Linked DNA regions of Homo sapiens. The protein of the gene in region 4 purifies or fractionates together with the protein of the main gene of each other region. This does not show direct contact. Each region holds a gene or a part of one and is shown on either strand. Other genes may lie near its edges.

What was found. The genes of interacting proteins can lie anywhere in the genome.
Region 1: the proteins of AMHR2 (region 4) and RHBDF2 purify together in Homo sapiens (affinity purification with mass spectrometry; one large-scale study listed by BioGRID and IntAct). This does not show direct contact.
Region 2: the proteins of AMHR2 (region 4) and FKBP5 purify together in Homo sapiens (co-immunoprecipitation; 2 studies listed by BioGRID and IntAct, with this or other methods). This does not show direct contact.
Region 3: the proteins of AMHR2 (region 4) and SGK3 purify together in Homo sapiens (affinity purification with mass spectrometry, with the first as the bait; one large-scale study listed by BioGRID). This does not show direct contact.

What each region holds. Positions count from the first base shown.
Region 1 is NC_000017.11:76,494,904-76,498,429, forward strand, and holds part of RHBDF2 (inactive rhomboid protein 2), read right to left. Parts: intron 1-3,526. UniProt on the Homo sapiens protein: Regulates ADAM17 protease, a sheddase of the epidermal growth factor (EGF) receptor ligands and TNF, thereby plays a role in sleep, cell survival, proliferation, migration and inflammation. Does not exhibit any protease activity on its own.
Region 2 is NC_000006.12:35,573,896-35,577,421, reverse strand, and holds part of FKBP5 (peptidyl-prolyl cis-trans isomerase FKBP5), read left to right. Parts: intron 1-188; coding exon 189-428; intron 429-1,479; coding exon 1,480-1,587; 3' UTR 1,588-3,526. UniProt on the Homo sapiens protein: Immunophilin protein with PPIase and co-chaperone activities. Component of unligated steroid receptors heterocomplexes through interaction with heat-shock protein 90 (HSP90).
Region 3 is NC_000008.11:66,855,775-66,859,171, reverse strand, and holds part of SGK3 (serine/threonine-protein kinase Sgk3), read right to left. Parts: intron 1-3,397.
Region 4 is NC_000012.12:53,426,829-53,429,513, forward strand, and holds part of AMHR2 (anti-Muellerian hormone type-2 receptor isoform 1 precursor), read left to right. Parts: intron 1-1,048; coding exon of another isoform or gene 1,049-1,105; intron 1,106-2,067; coding exon 2,068-2,182; intron 2,183-2,624; coding exon 2,625-2,685. UniProt on the Homo sapiens protein: On ligand binding, forms a receptor complex consisting of two type II and two type I transmembrane serine/threonine kinases.

The sequences.
Region 1 (3,526 bases), on a different chromosome or scaffold from region 4:
AAGGGGGCACGCACAGCAGCCGGGCCCCAGTTCTCCTGCTCCCTCAGCATCGTTGTGAAGGGGAGGAGTCAGAAGTGGCCCCTGGGGGCCAAAAGGCCCTGTCCATTTGGGGTCAGACACCAGGACACTGGAGGGTTTCCGGGGTGGGGTGTGCACCACACAGTGCCACAGCAACACAGGCTCGGTGGGAACTGCCCTTTGCTGCAAACGTTCATGAAAGTCTGCCTCTCTGCATCCCGGCAGCCGGGTTTTCACGGGTCCTTGGAAGCAGTGGTGGTCCAGCACAAGCCCAGCGGTTGGGGCAGGATGAGATGCAGCCTGGGGTCTGTGTGAGAGGTCCGTTTCACTCCTGCTGGAGGCTCCTTGACACTAAGGTGTGACCAGGCCATTTCCGTTTGTGACTGTCCCATGTACACAGACAGGGCACTGTCCTGTGCTTACAAAGTAGGAGCCCACCCGGTTTCCACCTGCCTCCAGACAGTGAAAATCTGTCCCGATGGCAGAAGACAGGGTCACAGGCCCATCTCTAACCACTGTGCGATCTTGGGCAAGCCACTTAACATCTCTGAGCCTCAGTTTGTGTATGCATAAGATGCTAGTATCCTCCCAGGGTCTAAGATCTATGTGACTTTGTCACCATGAACGAGGGCTCACCCCAGGAACAGCTCAGCTGAGGTACAAGGTCTCACCTATTGTACAGAGAGGTAAGCACCTTGCCCAGTGCCACCCAGCCAGAAATAGGCCTGGACTGGCTGGGTGTGAGCATGCAGAGCCCAGGGAGCCGACGGCATCCCTGGGCCCTCACCTCGACACACTCAGAGCGCTTCTGGAGGCCCAGTTCTGCCTCCGGCTGCATGGAGCCCCTCAGCAGGGAGGGAAAATGCCAGGCAGACACTTCTGAGCTTGTAAACGGTCATTAAGGAACTAATAAACCTGATTTCCCAGAACGTTGCCCTGGGGCTCCCTGCTTCCCAGGGAAGAGGCTGGCCCTAGCCCCAGTGACTGCCAGGGTTTCAGGACACGGGGACACCAGGTTGCTTGTCCCAAGCAGGCCTGCAAAGCCACGTGCTTATGGCCCACACCTTGCTTCGGGGCAGCGTGGAGCTCTCTTGCTGAGGAATGAGGAGGAATAAGGGGCCAGAGATGGGACTCAAACCTGCCTGGGCCACCTACCTGCTGGGAGACTTTGGGCAAGTGGGTGCTGCAGAGCCTGCCTCCTCTGCTGTGAGATGGGTTGATGCCCCACCACGGAGGGAGCCAGGGAAGATGACAGCAGATATGAATGTACAGTGCCTGGCACACACCCAACGCCCAGTTGGAAGTTTCTTTTATTCCTGGCTGAGCTCTGCCACCATCGCTCACTTAGTCTCTATCTGAGCCACGAGCCCCACAGGGGACAGATCTCTATTCGACAGGTGGGGAAACTGAGGCTCAGAGAGATGAAGTCACCTGTCCAAGGTCCCACAGTTAGGGAGGTGGTGGGGCTACAACCCCAGCCAGGGTCCCGCGCTCTTAACCTCCACACTCTGCAGCCTCTTGCCACCCTGGAACTGGTGAGGGGCAGGAGAAAAAGAACGGGTGAGGACTCTGAGTGTTTGGGGTGCTGGAGTGAGTCCTGCATGCAAAGGCCTTTGATTCATGAAGAAGGGACAGCACCTAACTGCCTGGGCAGCACTGCTCAGCTTGCAAAGGACTTTTACAGACATGATCTCATTTAGTTGAGGCTAAGGGTGAGAGGCGGCTGTCATCATCCTCACGGGCTGGCAAGGTCAAAAGGGGCTTAGGCCAGGGTTCAAAGTCCTGTTCCCACTCCAAACCCCACAGCAGATCCTCAACCCTCCTCTTCCAGATCTCTTTTTTTTTTCTTTTATTTTTTGAGACGGAGTCTCGCTCTGCTGCCCAGGCTGGAGTGCAGTAGGGTGATCTCGGCTCACTGTAAGCTCTGCCTTCTGGGTTCAAGCGATTCTCCTGCCTCAGCCTCCTGAGTAGCTGGGACTACAGGTGCATGCCACCACACCTGGCTAATTTTTTTGTATTTTTAGTAGAGACGGGGTTTCACCGTATTAGCCAGGATGGTCCCGATCTCCTGACCTTGTGACTGCCTGCTTCAGCCTCCCAAAGTGCTGGGATTACAGGCGTGAGCCACCGCGCCTGGCCCCAGATCTTCTTATGACTAAATGGAGCTGACAACCTGGGGAGACCCACTGGGAGAGGGAAAAGGGTTTCTTGCCAGAGACCGGGGCAGGAAGCCATCCCTGCACCACCTGCTGGCACAGGGTTGGCGGCCACACGGGGGAGGCAGAGGAGAAAACCAAGACTTGAGGCAGCTTTACCCTGCTCCCAGCCCCAGGAACCTACGCCAGGGAAAGCACAGCTGAGGGGCACCAACTCCATGAGCTGCCCCCCACCCCACTGTCAGTGACACACACACACTGGCAGGCCAGGAAAACCCCTGGGCAGAGGTCAGCAGTTCATGCCCAGATGGAAACCCACCCTCACTTCCCTTGGCCAGCAAGGCACTGAGGTCCCCCTACCCCAGACACAGCCACTCCTACAGAATAACAATAACAACAGTGCCACTGCTCCATATGCGTGTTCCCATCTAGTCCTTGACAGCCCACGAGGCAGGGCCTCGGCCATCTCCCAAGTCTGTGCCATGGACCGGCAGCCACGCCCCTACCTGAAGCCACCCTAACACCATTATCACGATGGCTCCCCGCACTGCTCCTGCCATGGCCGGGCACTGCACTGCAGGCTGCACACCTTTACCACGGGAGTCCTCACCTCACACAACCCTCCAGGTAGATTACTGTTAGTGAGCCCACTGTGCAGCTGGGGAAACTGAGGCACAGACTAATTAAGTGAACTCATCCTACTGAGCACACACATGGACGACTGTGCCCAGCAGCCCCTGGACCTTGGCCCAGCTCCTGAAGTTTGGAATCCTCCTCCATCCTTTTCTGCTGGTCACAAGGTTCCCCTCACACTCCAAACAGTGTCTCTGGCCCACCTCCTGCACTGCCCACTTGGCTGAAACCACTTTCCTGCAGGAGCCGGGCACTGGGGCTGGAACTGCCTTCCAGTAGCTTTTGGACCACAAACAACTCCCAGCTGGGCGCCCGGATACATTTGCTGAAGGAGGGGCCGTGGACACGGTGGCGCTTTGTACTTCCCGGAAGATGTGTTTTTCCTTACACCCATCCTAGGTCTCCTGGGAGGCAAAACGACGTTCCGGGCAGGCTTGGTTTCCCTGTGAAGCCGCCCGTGCCCTGAGAGCTGTCCCTGCCTAGCCACCACCACCGCCGAGGTCAGCCTGTACTTGGGCAGGCGCAGACGTCCCCGCCACTCCTCCCCCAGCCTGGCTCAGCTGGATAGGAAACTGGGAGCCGCTTCCGACAGCCAGCGCTTCCACAGCCGGTGCAGATGCCTGAGCTCACTCTGGAAATCCCCTGGGGCAGATGGGGCAGCGCCGAGGCCTGCTCCAGAGTGCGAGGCACAGAGATCTGAGGAGAGTGTGGAGGGGGAG
Region 2 (3,526 bases), on a different chromosome or scaffold from region 4:
TTCTAGAAATTGCATTAAATGCAGAAAATAATTTGGGTAGTAAATTTTGATCAGTAGTATGTAATTATCTTGAGCCCCATTTTTTTAAATACACTTTTTCCATCTCCTTTGGCAAGAGAACTTTGGTAAGCTGTTTACTGAATTTATTAAAATTCGTCCTTTCTAAAATATAGACCATCTATTCCTAGGCCCTTGGACTGGACAGTGCCAATGAGAAAGGCTTGTATAGGAGGGGTGAAGCCCAGCTGCTCATGAACGAGTTTGAGTCAGCCAAGGGTGACTTTGAGAAAGTGCTGGAAGTAAACCCCCAGAATAAGGCTGCAAGACTGCAGATCTCCATGTGCCAGAAAAAGGCCAAGGAGCACAACGAGCGGGACCGCAGGATATACGCCAACATGTTCAAGAAGTTTGCAGAGCAGGATGCCAAGGTGTGTGCAGAGCCTGATGACTGCAGGTGGATCAAGAGCCTGACCATGCCCCTTTGATTTTAGGGGACAGGAACAGCTAAACAACCCAAGAGGCTCAAGAGCAGGGAAAACGATTTCCAATCTAATCTGAGGCTGCTTTGGATCCAAAGGTCGAGTAGGGCAGTTCCAGTCACCAAAGGCACACGTCATGAGAGATGAGAAAACTAAATTCCCTTCAGATGTATTAGATTGGTTCAAAAGTAATTGTGGTTTTTACCATTACTTTCAATGGCAAAAACAGCAATTTTGCACCAACTCCCCCCGCCCGCCCCCCGGGCCCCTGCCCGAGTCAGAGTCTCACTCTGTCACCCAGACTGTAATGCAGTCGTGCTAACATGGCTCACTGCAGCCTTGACTTCTCTGGATCAAGTGATCCTCCCACCTCAGCCTCCTGAGTAGCTAGGACAAGCACACTACCACACTGGGCTAATTTTTTAAAATTTTTTGTAAAGATAGGGTTTCACTTTGTTGTCTAGGCTGGTCTCGAACCCCTGGCTTCAAGGGTTCCTCCTGCTTTGGTCTCCCAAAGTGCTGGGATTATAGACATGAGCCACCATGCCCAGCCCTTTTGTCATTTTTGAAAAATTGTAAACCCATCAGGATTTTTTTTTCAAGTAAGACTTACGATTTTCCCAGGAAATGGGATGTTATAGGAGCCCCATCATCACACCTGTTATCTTGAGGGTCGGCAGCCAGCCTGAAAAATGTGGCAGGAGAGGTCTGTCTGCAGAGAGGGCGGCCTCCCTACAGCATAGTTGGCATTCTGGTCCTGTCCCCAGTCTCCAGGAATGCCCAGACTTCATTATCCCACAGCTGTCCCATGTGTCAACCAAAGAAAGGTGAAGCTCCCACTCTAACTATTGGTAGCACAGCCCTGACCTACCCAGCTAGATATCCTAGAGAAAATCATTGCAATACCTCGTGTTTGGGACCTGATACACAGTCTGGAGGAGCCAGGAATTATTTCACTTCTTTATTCTCTAACCTTCTTGATTGCTTATTTCTTCCTTAGGAAGAGGCCAATAAAGCAATGGGCAAGAAGACTTCAGAAGGGGTCACTAATGAAAAAGGAACAGACAGTCAAGCAATGGAAGAAGAGAAACCTGAGGGCCACGTATGACGCCACGCCAAGGAGGGAAGAGTCCCAGTGAACTCGGCCCCTCCTCAATGGGCTTTCCCCCAACTCAGGACAGAACAGTGTTTAATGTAAAGTTTGTTATAGTCTATGTGATTCTGGAAGCAAATGGCAAAACCAGTAGCTTCCCAAAAACAGCCCCCCTGCTGCTGCCCGGAGGGTTCACTGAGGGGTGGCACGGGACCACTCCAGGTGGAACAAACAGAAATGACTGTGGTGTGGAGGGAGTGAGCCAGCAGCTTAAGTCCAGCTCATTTCAGTTTCTATCAACCTTCAAGTATCCAATTCAGGGTCCCTGGAGATCATCCTAACAATGTGGGGCTGTTAGGTTTTACCTTTGAACTTTCATAGCACTGCAGAAACCTTTAAAAAAAAAATGCTTCATGAATTTCTCCTTTCCTACAGTTGGGTAGGGTAGGGGAAGGAGGATAAGCTTTTGTTTTTTAAATGACTGAAGTGCTATAAATGTAGTCTGTTGCATTTTTAACCAACAGAACCCACAGTAGAGGGGTCTCATGTCTCCCCAGTTCCACAGCAGTGTCACAGACGTGAAAGCCAGAACCTCAGAGGCCACTTGCTTGCTGACTTAGCCTCCTCCCAAAGTCCCCCTCCTCAGCCAGCCTCCTTGTGAGAGTGGCTTTCTACCACACACAGCCTGTCCCTGGGGGAGTAATTCTGTCATTCCTAAAACACCCTTCAGCAATGATAATGAGCAGATGAGAGTTTCTGGATTAGCTTTTCCTATTTTCGATGAAGTTCTGAGATACTGAAATGTGAAAAGAGCAATCAGAATTGTGCTTTTTCTCCCCTCCTCTATTCCTTTTAGGGAATAATATTCAATACACAGTACTTCCTCCCAGCATTGCTACTGCTCAGCTTCTTCTTTCATTCTAATCCTTGCTATTAAGAATTTAAGACTTGTGCTTACAATATTTTTGACCTGGAGTGGATCTATTTACATAGTCATTTAGGATCCATGCAGCTTTTTTTGTCTTTTTAAGATTATTGGCTCATAAGCATATGTATACTGGTTTATGGAACTTTATTTACACTCCTCTATCATGCAAAAAAATTTTGACTTTTTAGTACTAAGCTTAATTTTTAAAAACAAAATCTGTAGGGTTGACAAATAAATAGTTGCTCTTCTACACTAGGGGTTTCACCTGCAGGTTTGACACGCAGTTGCTCGCTTTTCCTGCCCTGTCAAGCTTCTCTGTTCTGGCGTGAGTTGTGAAAGAGTTGAAGACAGCTTCCCATGCCGGTACACAGCCAGTAGCCTAAATCTCCAGTACTTGAGCTGACCATTGAACTAGGGCAAGTCTTAAATGTGTACATGTAGTTGAATTTCAGTCCTTACGGGTAAACAGATTGAGCATGGCTCTCTATTCCCTCAGCCTAAGAAACACTCATGGGAATGCATTTGGCAACCCAAGGAACCATTTGCTTAAACCTGGAACATCTCACCTTTTTAAATCCTAAAAAACACTGGCAGTTATATTTTAAATTAGTTTTTATTTTTATGATGGTTTTATCAAAAGACTTTTATTATTAGATTGGGACCCCCTTCAAACCTAAAAATCAAGTTATTTCCTTTTATAATACTTTTCTTCCCCATGGAACAAATGGGATCAATTTGTGAGTTTTTTCCTTTAATGATAACTAAAATCCCTCTAATTTCTCATTTATGCTTTTGTCTTTTTTATGAAATATTTCTTTTAAAAGCCCCAGTCTCACCTACGAAATATGAAGAGCAAAAGCTGATTTTGCTTACTTGCTAAACTGTTGGGAAAGCTCTGTAGAGCATGGTTCCAGTGAGGCCAAGATTGAAATTTGATACTAAAAAGGCCACCTAGCTTTTTGCAGATAACAAACAAGAAAGCTATTCCAAGACTCAGATGATGCCAGCTGTCTCCCACGTGTGTAT
Region 3 (3,397 bases), on a different chromosome or scaffold from region 4:
TTTAGTACAGACAGGGTTTCATCATGTTGGCCAGGCTGGTCTCGAACTCCTGACCTTGTGATTCACCTGCCTCAGCCTCCCAAAGTGCTGGGATTACAGGTGTGAGCCACCGCGCCTGGCCCAATTTAGTCCTTTATTACAACTCCTTTATGAATTTGTGTGTTTATTCCTGGCAAGGTTAGATGTCTTCCTAATTCATTCCCTTGAAACGCTTTTCTGCTTTTCCTTTCCTGACCTTTATTATTTAGGTCAAGTTATCTGTCCTCCTAAAACAGGGGTGTCCAATCTTTTGGTCCCCTGGGCCACATTGGAAGAAGAAGAATGGTCTTGGACCACACTCACCAACATTAACAATAGCTGATGAGCTAAAAAACAAACAAAAAAATGCAAAAAAGGTCTCATAATGTTTTACAGAAAGTTTAAGAATTTGTGTTGGGCCGCATTCAAAACCATCCTGTGCCTCATGTAGCCCACAGACTGTGCACTGAACAAGCTTATTCTAACAGTTAAGGTTCTTTTTGAGTTGGGGGAGGAGACAGAAAAGTAAGGAAGGCTCACAAACAGAGATTCATTGTTAATTTAAATCTCAAGGCTTGTCACTGATCCCCTTTCTCTCTACCCATCACTGCCTCACACTACACCCAAGTTTAGAAAAAGGTCTCAGGTAGGTTTTCAGGATAGCATTTTGTATTTTTTTTTTTTTTTTGAGACAGAGTCTCGCTCTGTCACCCAGGCTGGACTGCAGTGGCGCCATCTTGGCTCACTGCAAGCTCCGCCTCCCGGGTTCACGCCATTCTCCTGCCTCAGCCTCCCGAGTAGCTGGGACTACAGGCGCCCACCACCATGCCCGGCTAATTTTTTCTATTTTTAGTAGAGACGGGGTTTCACCGAGTTAGCCAGTCTTGGTCTTGATCTCCTGACCTCGTGATCCACCTGCCTCAGCCTCCCAAAGTGCTGGAATTACAGGCGTGAGCCACCGCACCCGTCCTAGCATTTTGTATTTGAGCTTCCATAAAACGCCTGTCCATCTGGTTTCTCAATTATGGGTGGGTAAAGCCTTCTGATGAATAAATGAAGCGGTTATAAGTAAAATAATAATTTTTTGTTATCACTTATTTAATTAGGTTCTTGGTTATAAGTAAAATTGTGAAAGATGACTCTTACTGTGCTACAGAGACTGTCAATGAAGCATTTGACTAGGGCACCCTTAGCTCTGGAGGGCTTCCGAGTCCTGATATGAAAATTAAGCATGATGGCTGCTTAGGCTCAAAGGCAGTGGTTAACTTTCCTTTACAAATCTGATACAAGCTAATAGACTCTACCTTTCCTACACACACACACACACACACACACACACACACACACACACACATACACACACACTTTTTTGAGACAGGGTCTCATCCTGTAGTCCAGGCTGGAATGCAGTGGCACAATCACAGCTCACTGCAGCTTCGACCTCCTGGGCTCAAGGGATCATCCTGCCTTAGCCTTCTCCAAGTAGCTGGGACCACAGGCATGTGTCACTATACCTGGCTTATTTTTTATTTTTAGTAGAGTCAAGTTCTCACCATGTTGTCCAGGCTGGTCTTGAACTCCTAGGCTCAAGCAATCCTCCCACCTCAGCCTCCCAAAGTGTTGAGATTACAGCCATGAGCCGCCATGCCCAGCCCCAATATATTTATAGATAAAAACTGGGATACAAATTCAGGTGATTCATTCTTAAAGTCCATCCCTGAATTTCTAGGTTATTTCTGCTCTACAGGGAAGGGAACCCTTAAAATGTTCAAGTCATTAAGTCTAACTGAGGGTGTGCTGATAGAAATTCAGAGTGGATATTATAAGCAAAGGATAACAGCCTGGTACATCTACAAACTGAGCAGAGACCACAAAAACCCAGAATGCTAGATCCTCCCATATGAGAAAATCCCCCATAGAGACAAAGAATGCTAGAAGTTTTATATGTATGTATGTATGTACGTATGTATGGTTTTTTCCTCATCAAATTCTTATATACAATCCTTGAAGCATGGGCTCTTGGATTCTGGCTACAAAATTTGCTAGCTGTCCTTTTTTTTTGAGACAGAATCTCATTCTGTTGCCCAGGCTAGAGTGCAGTGGCGTGATCTTGGCTCACTCAAACCTCCACTTCCTGGGTTCAAGCAATTCTTGTGCCTCAGACTTCTGAGTAGCTGGGACTACAGATATGTGCCACCATGCCCAGCTAATTTTTGTATTTCTAGTAGAGACAGGGTTTCACCATGTTGGCCAGGCTGGTCTCGAACTTCTGACCTCAAGTGATATGCCCGTCTCGGCCTCTCAAAGTGCTTGGATTACAGTTGTGTAATTCGTTATATAAACTACTCTATCTCTATGAGCTTGTTTCTTCTTCCATAAAGTAAGAATACTATCACCTACCTCCTGAGGTTATTGCAAGGATCTGATGCGTTAATAAAATTTCCAGAATCTAACATGTAGAAGGCACTCAAATGATGGCAATGTTCTCTGACTTGCCTTTATAATGCCCTCATGGCTCATGGCTGGTACTGACAGGAATAATACAGGCTGAGCATCCCAAATCTGAAAATCCAAAATCCAAAATGCTCCAAAAGCCAAAAATTTTGAGCATCTACATGACAGTCACTGGAGCATTTTGAATTTCAGATTTTCAGATATGGGATGCTCAATCAGTAAGTAAATCCAAAAATCCAAAAAACAATCCCAAATCCAAAACACTTCTGGTCCCAAACATTTCAGATAAAGGATACTCAACCTGTACTATGTGGTTTATTAAGAGTGAGAGCGGGCCAGGCACGGTGGCTCATGCCTGTAATCCCAGCACTTTGGGAGGATGAGGCAGGCGGATCACAAGGTCAGGAGGTCGAGACCATCCTGGTTAACACGATGGAACCCCATCTCTACTAAAAATACAAAAAATTAGCCCAGCATGGTGGCCAGCTATTGTAGTCTCAGCTACTTGGGAGGCTAAGGCAGGAGAATCACTTGAACCCGGTAGGCGGAGGTTGCAGTGAGCCAATATCGTGCCACTGCACTCCAGCCTGGGTGACAGAGCAAGATTCCATCTCAAAAAAAAAAAAAAGAACAGTTGAGGGCTCTGCCTTCAGAGTATCTGAGAGTTAGAGTTCAAATTCTAGTTCTGGAACTTTAATTTTGAGAAAAGTTATTTAACTTTCTTTGTGCCTCAGTTAACTCATCCATATATATGGAAAATTACAGTACTATCTCATAGGATTGTTGTCAGGATTTAGTAAAAGGATACATGTAAAGTACTGAGAACACTGTATGAGAACACCTACTTCATCAAACCCTAGAATAGCTAACTGTTTGATCTTTGTTAATCTGCCAGGTGAAAAATGGTAACCTGTTATGGTTTAAT
Region 4 (2,685 bases):
CTTGCCACCACGCCTGGCTAATTTTTGCATTTTTAGTAGAGACGGGGTTTCACCATGTTGGCCAGGCTGGTTTCAAAATCCTGACCTCAAGTGATCCACCCATCTTAGCCCCCCAAAGTGCTGGGATTACAGGTGTGAGACACCGTGCCCAGCCAAAAAAAAAAAAAAAAAAATTGTTAAAGAAATATCTTCAGGCACAGCCCTCCAAACTCATTCGTATTCATTCAACAAATAAGTATGAACTATATGTCAGGCACTATGCTAGAGGCCACAAAAAACACACAGTCCCTCTTTTACAGATTTTATAGACTAGCAGGGGAGACAGAAATGGATCAAGTAAACACGAGTGTCAAATGTCAAGTGTGCTAAGTGCTAGGAGAGAGGGCCAATGAACTATAAGAATAATAAGATGTGACTTGAAGGGGAGAGCAATGAGCAACAAGAAGAGGAAAAGGTAGGCAGAGGCCAGCCACACCAGGCCCTGTGGGCCTGTTAAATATTTGGGGCTTTTTAAGTTTTCATACCATTTCCCATCTGCTTCCTGCTAGGCATTACGCTACCCGCTTTTTATTTTATTTTATTTTATTTTATTTTTTAGACAGAGTCTCATTCTGTTGACTAGGCTAGAGTGCAGTGGCACAATCTTGGCTCACTGCAGCCTCTACCTCCTGGTTTCAAGCAATTCTGCCTCAGCCACCTGAGTAGCTGGGATTAAGGCGTGCCGCCACTACTCCTGGCTAATTTTTGTATTTTTAGTAGAGACGGGATTTCACCCTGTTGGCCAGGCTGGTCTCAAATTCCTGACCTCAAGTGATCTGCCTGCCTCGGCCTCCCAAAGTGCTGGAATTACAGGCGTGAGCCACCCCGCCCGGCCATGCTACACGCTTTAAACACATTTCCAAACTTACCCTTCACAAACACATTATGAGATAGGAATGATTATCCACATGGGGCTCAGAAAAGGAAAGTCATTTGCCCAGAATCTATGTGACTCTAGAGCTGGCTCCTCATCATCGTGTCTATTGCCTCCTGTTTACCCCTCCATCAGGACTGTGTGTGTCTCTGTCCACGTGGAAGAGCTCCCCACAACTCACTTTGCCCTATTGTAAGTAGTTCAACCTCCACCACCTGTTTCAGAGCCCAAATGCAGTGGCTCTTCCCTGAACTTTTTCAGCACCTACAGCTTCTGTACTTCTGAAATCTTGAATGATGGAAAGTCCCTTCTTTGACCATATACCTCCTGGCCCAGCTCAAAAATCACTGTTTTTTTGTTTGTTTAATTTCTCTGACTTCTCCAGGCAGGGTTAGTCATTCTTGCTTTATGCCCCTTGGCACTCGGTTAATTTTCCTATCTTGGGGTTTACTGCATTCTTTATCTCTTACCTTCCCTGAGCCATCTTGGTGCCTGAACACAGTTCGTGGCCACCGAAGGTGCTCGATGACACTTGTTGAATGAGGGGTTCTATTGCTCCCTTCCCTCCAATTCCCACTTGCCCTCCACCTGCTACTCTGTTATCTACTGGCTCTGCCCGTCTATGTGTACACATGCCTGACACCTCAGACAAGGTGACTCATGAAGGATGCCCCTGACTAGCTTGCCCTGCCTCCTCTGTTACTGTCTTTGCCGCATGTCTTCTGAGTCAGTATAAGGTGGTGGTTATTAGTAAGTGATCCTGAGTCAGACTGCTTGGATTCAAGCTCCACTCCTGCCTCACCGACTGACTTCAAGAGAGTTTCCTTAGTTCTGTAAGGAAAAGCTCTTCATCTGTTAAATGGGGGTGTGACAGGAGCACCTACCTTCTAGGGTTTTCACAAGGATTACAGGAGGCCACATCCACTGGGTCTGGACCACAGTAAGTGCCCAGTACCCTTGATCTAGAGTTACTATTTTTCATGTCAATTGATGCACAGTCTTACTCCTCTACCTATTGTCTTGGCCAGCATCCATCAGTGTGTCTGTCTGCTGGGGAGATGCAGGGAGAAGACTGTCAATTGATCTCTGCTCCCTGGGATGGATCAGCCGTCTCCAGCTTTGTGTACCATCCTTTTCTCTCTGCGTTTCCCCAGGGCTCCCTGTGCCACTACTTGACCCAGTACACCAGTGACTGGGGAAGTTCCCTGCGGATGGCACTGTCCCTGGCCCAGGGCCTGGCATTTCTCCATGAGGAGCGCTGGCAGAATGGTGGGTGAGCTGGGCATAGGAAGTCAAGGGAGCCACAGTGCTATGTTTGTGATTCTGCCTTAGTTTGGAGGGGAAAGATTGGGTCAAAAGAGGGAGGAAGAGCCGGGCACGGTGGCTCACGCCTATAATCCCAGCACTTTGGGAGGCCGAGGTGGGCGGATCACAAGGTCAGGAGATCGAGGCCATCCTGGCTAACATGGTGAAACCCTGTCTCTATTAAAAATACAAAATATTAGCCGGGCGTGGTGGCATGTGCCTGTAGTCCCAGCTACTCGGGAGGCTGAGGCAGGAGAATCACTTGAACCCGGGAGGCGGAGGTTGCAGTGAGCCGAGATCGCGACACTGCACTCCAGCCTGGGCGACAGAGCGAGACGCCGACTCAAAAAAAAAAAAAGAGGGAGGAAGAAAATCCATGTTCCTTCAACCTTGGATTCCCCCACAGGCCAATATAAACCAGGTATTGCCCACCGAGATCTGAGCAGCCAGAATGTGCTCATTCGGGA